2 separate regions of the Homo sapiens genome follow, and region 2 is linked to region 1. Evidence: fine-mapped expression QTL. A gene starts in region 1. The other region holds a variant in brackets. All regions are shown on one strand. Distances are from middle to middle. Region 1 holds the start of POMT2 (protein O-mannosyltransferase 2). Region 2 overlaps POMT2 (protein O-mannosyltransferase 2).

Region 1 (4,381 bases):
CCACTGCGCCCAGCCTGGTAATTACTTTCTTAAAAAAATTTTTACAAGGGTAGTGGGCTATTGTAATTACTGGTAATGACACCAAAGATCAGAGATCAATCTGAACCCCTGTGCACAGGTCACAGTGGTTAATAGACTGGTCTTAGACTGCAGCCCAGATGTCTGAAATAAGATTCCTCGGTGCCCCCAGGACTTATTCACAAGTGGCTGAATCCAGGACCCTGGAGGGCATGGTTGAGGTAAATACTGTAAGCTGGCCTTATTCTGCTGCTTAGAGTCCCATTGACAACAACCTTAATTAAATGCTGTAAGGGACAAACTGAAAAGATGTGAGTAGCCAGGGGAGTTGTATATTCATGTGAAAATCTGCTAGAAGCCAAGACCATAGAATCGAGGAGTGAGAGAGGCTGTCAGATTGCTCGTGCCTCTACACATCATTCTGGGTATACCAAGAATGCAAGGCCCTGACTGCATCTCACCTGGGCCATTTCTCATGGTTGTGTTTGCAGCAAGCAACTTTGAGAGAAGAGGCAGTGTCTCCCTCCAGGACAAAGAGGAGGTCTGCGTACTGCCTTCTATAAAACAGCAGATTTTCCAAGCTTGTCGTTCCTTCACTTGGATGCAACCCACTGCCTGTGCAGTCATCCATTTAAACCCATAGCGTCACCCTGTGGGACTTGGATGGCAAGGGAAACTGCTTCTAACATGCATCCTATTTCCTGTAATAAAGTCCTTTGTCTCTAACCCAGGAGTCTCATCTTCTGCCAGCAGTCACGACACAATAACAAGCTAATTTATTAATTTCTAAATAAAGCAACCCTGACAGTCTGTTTTCTTGCCTGCTTTTTGCTTAAAGAATTCCATTTCTGACACCCAGTATCTGGATAGTACAAGCTAAAACCTTTAAGAAAATAAATCTCTTCTCACAAGAAGAGTTCTGCCTCATAAAATCCTTTGGTCACCATACCTGAACACCCAAACTGTCCTTGCCCTATAGGATAAAGGTACACAGTTAGGTATTTTCTCCTCTGTTGATGCCTGAAAATCCTGCAGACATAGGAACTCAGGCCTTAGAAAATTCTGTACCCAAAAATTTGCAATTCTCTTTGGAAAGTTGAAAGCACCTTTAAAAGCCACAATTTGCAAGCCAGGTGATGCACTGTAGCATAACCTGGAAGACATGAGGGCTGCTTCCTCAGATACTAAGAATCCCACTGCCCCACCACCAGAGCAAAACGATCCCCCTCCCAGAGAATGCACCTCGCCAGAGGCCAACCCACCCGATACCTCAAGTTCCCCTCCACCGTGGCCCTCCTCCTATAGATCCCGCCCCCTCCGTACCCTCGGGCCAATCAGAGGGCGGCGTCCCGTCGCGGTTGCCATGGTGCCCGCCGAGTCCCTCCCATCACTCACCAGATGTGCGGCGGCTCGTCCAAGCGGTGGAAGCGGGTGGCGAAGGACAGCAGCGTCACCAAGGCCAGCAGGGCCCACCAGCCGACCGCCTCGAAGCGCCGTGAGCCCCAAGCAGGCCGTTTGGGGCTTCGCGCCACAGCCTCAGCGGCCACGTCCCGGCCTGCGGCCCTAGCAGCCTGGGGGCCACAGCGGCCCCTCCGGGGACGCAGCTCGGACTCTGCCAGGCCTCCGCCCGTGGCCGGCGGCATCTTCCCCCTCCTCTGGGTCGCCCTCCGGCCCGGAGGCACACTTTGTCTGACCAGCCGCCCCGCCAAGGAGTCACAAGAGGGCAGCTCGGGGTACCCCGGGAAATGCAACGCCCTTCACTGCAGCGGAGCGCGGGGCCCCGGGCTCGGGGCGGGGCGGGCAGCGTGGTCGCGGCCCGGGCCGCTAGGAGGCGGCAGGAGGCGCAGAGCATGTCGGGACCGGGAGGGCCGGCCGGCCCGGGGCGGGGGGGACTGGGCAGGAGGGGTCGGGCTCAGGGAACTGCAACTCCCAGCAGCCCCCAGGTACGGGGCGTGGCGGGAGAGCTGGGCGAGCCAGAGGCGACCGGAAGGATCTTTCTAGTCCAGCCCCTCGCTTTACCCGGACGAAAGACACGGGCCTGATTCGTCGAGTCTCACTGAGCCTTAGTCGTCGGCAGGTCCCAGGCGCGAAGTTTCTCGGCCTGGAGGAGGGGGTCGCGCGAAGTGCCAGATGCAGGCGGGGAAGGTCTGTGACGCGCACCCGGGTGGAGGGAAGCTGGTTAGACACCTGGAGACCCTGGGGGGCGGGGTCAGAAGTGAGCTGCACCGCCCGCCCAGGCCGACAACGACTCCCGGCATGCAGTGCTTTGCGCCGGGCACGCTCTGCGCCTGCGTGCTGCGCGCTGCCCGCTGGGGCTCGAAGTTCCGGGAGGGTTGGGCCAGAGGAGGCGGTCCTGGTAGGGAGTGCGTAGCAGGGTGGAGTCGCTGTCCGGTCGCGCTTCACTTCTGCTCCGCCCTCCCTGCTCCCCATAACAGACCCCTCCCTCCACTAAGGCTTCCAAACGTCGCCCCAAGCCTCCCAATTTCTCGCAGCCCTTCATGCTCTTCTCTTGGCCCTAGCAGGAGGTGACCTTCCAGTAATGTTTGTATTTTAAGAGTCCCCGGGCCGGGCGCGGTGGCTCACGCCTGTAATCCCAGCACTTTGGGAGGCCGAGGCGGGCGGATCACAAGGTCAGGAGATAGAGACCATCCTGGCTAACACGATGAAACCCTGTCTCTATTAAAATACAAAAAAATTAGCCAGGCGTGGTAGCGGGCGCCTGTAGTCCCAGCTACTCGGGAGGCTGAGGCAGGAGAATAGCGTGAACCCAGGAGGCGGAGCTTGCAGTGAGCCGAGATCGCGCCACTGCACTCCAGCCTGGGCGAAAGAGCGGGACTCCGGCTCAAAAAAAAAAAAAAAAGGCCCCGAGCGAGGAGAGGCAGTCATGACAATCACCTGGGGAGCTTCACGGCTTTCACATGTTCTTCCCGGGGCCTGCTCCAGAGCCACTCTGTTCATCTCTGGTGGAACGGGCTCGAGAATCTGCATGTTTTTATAAGCGGTCTAGATGGTTCTTAACGTGCCATGAAGTTTGAGAACCACTTTTGTGGCACTAAGGAAGGTGGCACGTTAGATGGGACTTTGCGTCACGTTAATAATGTATAGTCCTCCCTCTTCCAAATGGGATTTTAGGAGTCTTTTTCTCAAATCATGTGTAAGACATGGTTTAAAAATAAAATCTGCTAAAGTAATCAGAATGCATATTTGAATTGGAAACACAGGTCTTCTAGGAGTGCTGATGAGATGGATACTTGGGCTTAAAGTTTAGTTCTACAAGTGCAGAAAGGAACGGGGCATGGTTTACATAGTTATCACTGGTAAGAGAAGGCAGAAATTGCCTAAGAGATTTCAGGTTTCCTGCTTGTGGGTCGTGACGGAGGGCAGCAGCATTTACCATGCTTCTGGTCACTCGTAGTACAGATCCAAAGGTGTAATCCAAAGGCATTTAGCCATTAGGTAAGGCATTTCTTCAGGGATTCTAAGCTAATTAATGTCTGCCACACTCTAGTGGTCACCAGCAGTCCCTGTCCCTTGGCACCAGGAGTCCCTGTAGCCTGGCTAGGTAAGGAAAGGGAGTTGCATCTCCAAATAAGGAAGATCCAGTTGTGGCCACCCAATTCCTCCTCTTCGAAAGACACTTTCTGCCCATCACCTGCTTTCTGTGCCAGGACCATCTTTACTTTCTCCACAAAAGGTACCTTCAGGACAGGCTGGGACTGCTGGGCTTGGGAACCATCTTGGAAGGGCCTAGGTTCCCACTTACACCCTTGCCATCTAGCAGACTGAGTTGGTAGTACAGGGATGGCAATAGCAAGTTCAGAGAGCAGCTTAATATGCTAGGGGTGGCAGAGGGGAGAGGGAGCTTTGGTGAAATGTCTATAGTCAGAGGGGTAGTAAACAGGGCATCTGAGAAGTTCTTTCAAGTTCTCCCCTATCCATAGGGATACACATGTTTTGGTGGGAAGATTCATGAGTGCTAATCACTGGCGAGTCTTTCCTGGGTTCCACTTTGAAATGCTGGCTCCCGAAGAAGTACCAGAGAAATTAACTTTGAGCCCCTTAAACCTTGGAGTAGAGATCGCACACCCAGCTGCCCCCAAGGGCCCAAAGGTAACAAAAATGAGAAAAGTGGGCCAGATATGGGCCATGGCAGACCTGAGAGCGCATACGCTGGTTGATGGGGGCCATTAGTCTGTTCCCATCAATTGCTGCTATTTAGGAACCCAAATCTGTCTCCAGATTTTTTTAAAGAAAAAAAACAAACAGGTGTTGTATATAAAATATCATGATTTTTATTTTTATTTTATTTTATTATTTATTTATTTTGAGATGGAGTCTTGCTCTGTCCCCCAGGCTGGAGGGC
Region 2 (4,330 bases), 23 kb before region 1:
ATGAACTTGTCCAAAGTGACACTCTATATGAAAGCAGGCTTCACACCCCGATCATCTAGTCTGGTTCCCAGGTCTGTGTTCATAAATACCACACTTTATTCATCACCCATCCCATAGCAGGCACCGTGCTAGGCAATTGAGCCTTCCAGGAGCTAGCAATCAAGTACCAAAGAGACGGCGGGAAGTAAGCATGCACAGTTCAATATGAGAAGGTTTACCACGTAGGCATGTGGAAGGTGCCACCAAGCCTCTCATCAGAGGGGCACCCCACCCAGCACCATGGAGAGGTGGGACATGGTTGTCACTAAAGAACACCTATGCTGATGCCTAGAGAAGCTGGGGTTAGCCAGAGAAAACAGAAGGGTGCAGGGCTAGGAAGAATGTTTCAAGCAGGGCGAACAGGATGAGCAAAGGATAGGAGGCAAGAGAGTGAACTGTCATGGCGAACAGCATTGCTGCCGTACAAGTGCACAAAAGGCTCACTGACCTGCTGCTGACGGGCACCAATGCCCTCGGGGTAGAGGTGCCTGTGGGAGTGCAGATAGCCGATGGCCATCCGGAGGTTCTTCACAGTGATCACAGAGCCGTAGGCCAGGTCTGGGAGGAAGGGAGACAGCAGAGGGGTGAGCTGGCACAGTGCCAGAGGCTGTCCGTGCCTGCGAGGAGCCTCGGAAGCCACAGGGCTCACTAACCCTCTGCGAGACTCCCCTGGGCCCTGGACTGAAGCCCAGCTACCTTCTCACTCCCATGGAGCCGACTCAAGACAGAGTTCACCACAGGGCCCACTTACTCCCCCGCCTCCTGAGGGCTTCAGAAGAAGCTTGTGTTAACACTGTCATTATCAAAGCACTACGTGTAACAGCAAAAGACGAAAAACAACTTGTCCTTCTCAAGGTCTCCACATGGATTCAATGGAATAAAGAAGGAAGTATCTTCTGTCTTCGCCTGGAATGTTCTCCAAGATACAGCATTTTGACAAACCATTTTTTTCACTCTATATCCTTTCGTGCCTTTTGAATCTAGTACCATATGAAATAACTGTTCAATGGTGTTTTGTTTTACTCTGAATTAAAAAACAAAAAACACAGAAAACCACTTCTCAAGAGCATCCCCTGCTCCTATAGGCCCTGAGTTATTGAGAAACCTTTTTTCCTTAATACTGTCCTTCTTCCAATCCGCTGGAATGACCTGCTCCTGTTTTTCTTTGTTCATTCAGTGGACCAGAAGAATTACACACTGGATCCAAAGGTGGAGGAGGCCTGCCTGTGGCCCTGGAAGAGCCCTGTCTACAAGGAAGATGGCTTCACACACTGACAAGTATAGGACAGTGGGCAAGTGCCCCACAAAGGCGTGACAATGTGTGACATGGTGGGAATGGTGGGAACTCGGAACAGGCCAAATTCTCTCCCAAGGATTAAAGAGAGGACGACTTGATCGAAGAGGTGACAGCTGAACTAGGCCTTTAAATAATGAGCAGGAATTTGCTAAACTCCACAGCTGTGTTCTTCTGAGTTCTCAGGCAGGCCAACCTCGGCAGCCCTGCACATGGCTGACCACCTTTATTTCTTGAAATGCTCTCTGTTCCCACTTCTCGACCGCACACTCTCTCAAGGGCTGCTCCTCCGCAGTCTCCTCTCCTAATTCCTCCTCCTCTTGCATTCCCCAGTGATCTGACCTCAGCTCTATTCTTTTCCTCTTTCTACAGTTTCCTTACAAATCACAGCTACTGCCACAGCATCAATTACCGTTTTACTTGTCTGATTCCTCCTTTGAAAGCATCAGCCCCAAATCCCACTGGCCCCATGGCAACAATTTCCCCAAGCAGCTCACTATCAACCCCTCTCGCGTGGAATTCAGTATCTGCCCTTCCAACCCAACTTCTTCTCCTGCTTCCCTATTTCTCATTCTTCCCAGTCTGGGAGAGTCCGCTGTATTTTAGGCACTGTGCAAAGTCCTGGAAAGACTAAAATGAGTAAGATGCAGTCTCTGCCTCCAGGAAGCAATCACCTGCACTCAAGTCCTTAGTGACATCTTTCTTCCTCTCTTGCTGTGTCCAGATCTCCCTTGTATATGCCCATTTGCCTTACCCTGTGGCTGCCCCACCATACCCAGCTCAGGTTCCTGCAATAGCTTCCCAGAGGGTTTCTCTTGCCTACAATCCTGTCCCCTCCCCAGCCAGCCTCGACTCTCCCACCCATGTCATCTCCCTATAGCACAGCCTTCCTGGCCTCCTGGCTGCTCAAAGACCTCCACTAGGTCTCCACGGCCTGTTTTAGGAAGTCAAATACCTCATCCAGACACCTCAAACCCTCATAGTCTGGGCCCAACCTAACTTTTCACATTTATCTTCCAGTAGTTTTCTGCATATACCTGTGCCTCAAGTTTTACTCTGTCCTCAGCTTTGATCATGTCATCCCTCCTGCCTGAGATGCCCTCTCCTCTGTTGAAAGCCACACATTCTTCCAGGGCCTGACTCCAAGGCAACCCACATCACGAACCTCTGATGCCCTTAACCGCCCAGCAGCCATGCTCCTTCACGCCTGTCAATCCCCAGAGCTGTGCTCCCTCTTTACGTACTTAACGCTTCCAGCCACACCGTGTGGAGCTCCTCTACACCAGGCTCCATCTCTGGAGGGTGAGCACGCGCTCCACTACCATCTGTCATAGATGAA[C/T]GAATGCAACACTCAGAAAGCGGTGCGGGAAACCAAAAACTGGCTCTGAAGGGCCTGGTGCTGTCACCATATTCTCTCTGAGTGACCTTCCCACAGAGCTGGCTTGGAGAGCCACCAAGGAGAAGTCATTCTTTAGGGTCAGAGAGCTTGCTGCTCAGGATGTCTTCCTCTCCTCTGTCCTGATTCACTCTCGAGTATTTTCACCAGATCTATCTGGGTCTTTCTCCCACCGTGCCATCACAGGCTAAAATAACCCAAAGCCATCATATTTGTCTTTTCCAATTCAACTCCCAGGACACCCCTCTGCCTTCTACCTTTGTAATGGCCCAGAGACACTCACGTTCAGGGATGGAAGCATTGTGCAGGTTGTTCCCTGAAAGCCGGGCCTGGAAGGCAGAACTGAAGAAACCGTCACCAGGGCCACTGTGGGGAGAGGAAGAGCAGAAGAGAGTCAAGTTAAAGGAGTGAAAGTGTGATTTCCCAGGAGCGCTGGGAAGAGCTCTGCTCAGATAGTTTAAGGAAAGTAGAATCAGATCATGGGACAGAGGTGGGTGATGGAGTTGGAGAAACTGGGGTCCAAATCCCAACTCAGCCACTTACTAGCTGTGCGACCTTGGGCAAGATAACCTTGTTTAGCCTTAGTTCCTCATTTATAAACTAGAGATTTAAAGAAACCAAGAGAAGTCACAAGTGATTCTGATTAAATGAGATAATGTGTACAAAATGCGGAACACAGTTCCTGATTCTCAGTAGCTACTCATTAAGTGGGAGCTGTTGCCGCCGGAGTTACTGTTATTGTTACACTCACTCCTACTGCACATCTTATTGTGGCCTATCCTTGCTAAGTACAGGGGACTCTGTTTAGAGATAAGGGACAATTTGGCTATAACGAAAATAGCTTCTTCCTTCAGGTTAGGGTGCTGGCCTTTCTGAGCCCTTAGCATATACCCAAAGGATAGAACATAGCAGGAAAGAAACAGGAAAAAGCCCCTGGGGTCCCTCACCTATCATTTTAACCACAGACCCAGAAAATCATCCGACCCCTCCACAGGCTTAGGAGCAAAAGGAAAACCAGAAGCAAGATGCTGCAAAGGCTCTGTCTGTACCTTTTACTCAGCACCATGAAGTGAACAGCAAAGGTGGCTGTATAGAGAGCCAGGGGCAGCACTATGAGGCACAGGACACGAGCAGTCAGGTGTTTTCCCACAGTCACCTGCAAACAGAGGCCAGCGTGGGGTGCTAGGCATGTGAGACCTCATTATTCCTTAGGCACTATGCATGCATTATATATAGCTTTTAATATATCAGTCATAATCATAAAAAATGGCCAAGAGGAGAGAGAAGAATATGTGGAAACCCTAAGCCTTTCTGTAACACCCACCACCCAAGCACTACACAAGATAAACATGGGCCAGCCCTCTGCTACCTCTCCAGGCTCTACACCCAAAACCCCAGGATGTTACTGTGCCAAGGACAAGGCACCTGCATCTGCAACACAGTTGCTCACCAGTCCGCTCCATGTTCCAGGTACACTAACCTCCTTGAACTTTCCCAGTGCTTCCTCTACTGTCCCAGCCCAACCCATCACATGGCTAATGGCTCCTTATCTTAACTTCGCGGCTTCCTTCCAGAGGCCTTCCTGGATTGCCTGGGACTGG

The links. PIP is the estimated chance that this variant, and not a neighbour inherited with it, causes the effect.
Region 2: its variant is fine-mapped to the expression of POMT2 in unexposed skin (GTEx, PIP 0.96).

What each region holds. Positions count from the first base shown.
Region 1 is chr14:77,319,021-77,323,401 of GRCh38, forward strand. POMT2 (protein O-mannosyltransferase 2) reads right to left here and starts at 1,863. Exons shown (of 21, transcript NM_013382.7): 1 at 1,414-1,863. The coding sequence starts at 1,661. GSTZ1 (glutathione S-transferase zeta 1) reads left to right here and starts at 2,016. Exons shown (of 9, transcript NM_145870.3): 1 at 2,016-2,163. The coding sequence starts at 2,149. RefSeq lists silencers at 1,350-1,399, 1,630-2,009 and enhancers at 2,090-2,359, 2,237-3,098, 2,630-2,679.
Region 2 is chr14:77,295,677-77,300,006 of GRCh38, forward strand. POMT2 (protein O-mannosyltransferase 2) reads right to left here. Exons shown (of 21, transcript NM_013382.7): 7 at 3,779-3,885; 8 at 3,013-3,095; 9 at 488-597. Among named protein-coding and RNA genes, the nearest start is that of POMT2, 23 kb to the right of the region's middle. The variant C/T (reference allele first, on the strand shown) is at 2,673.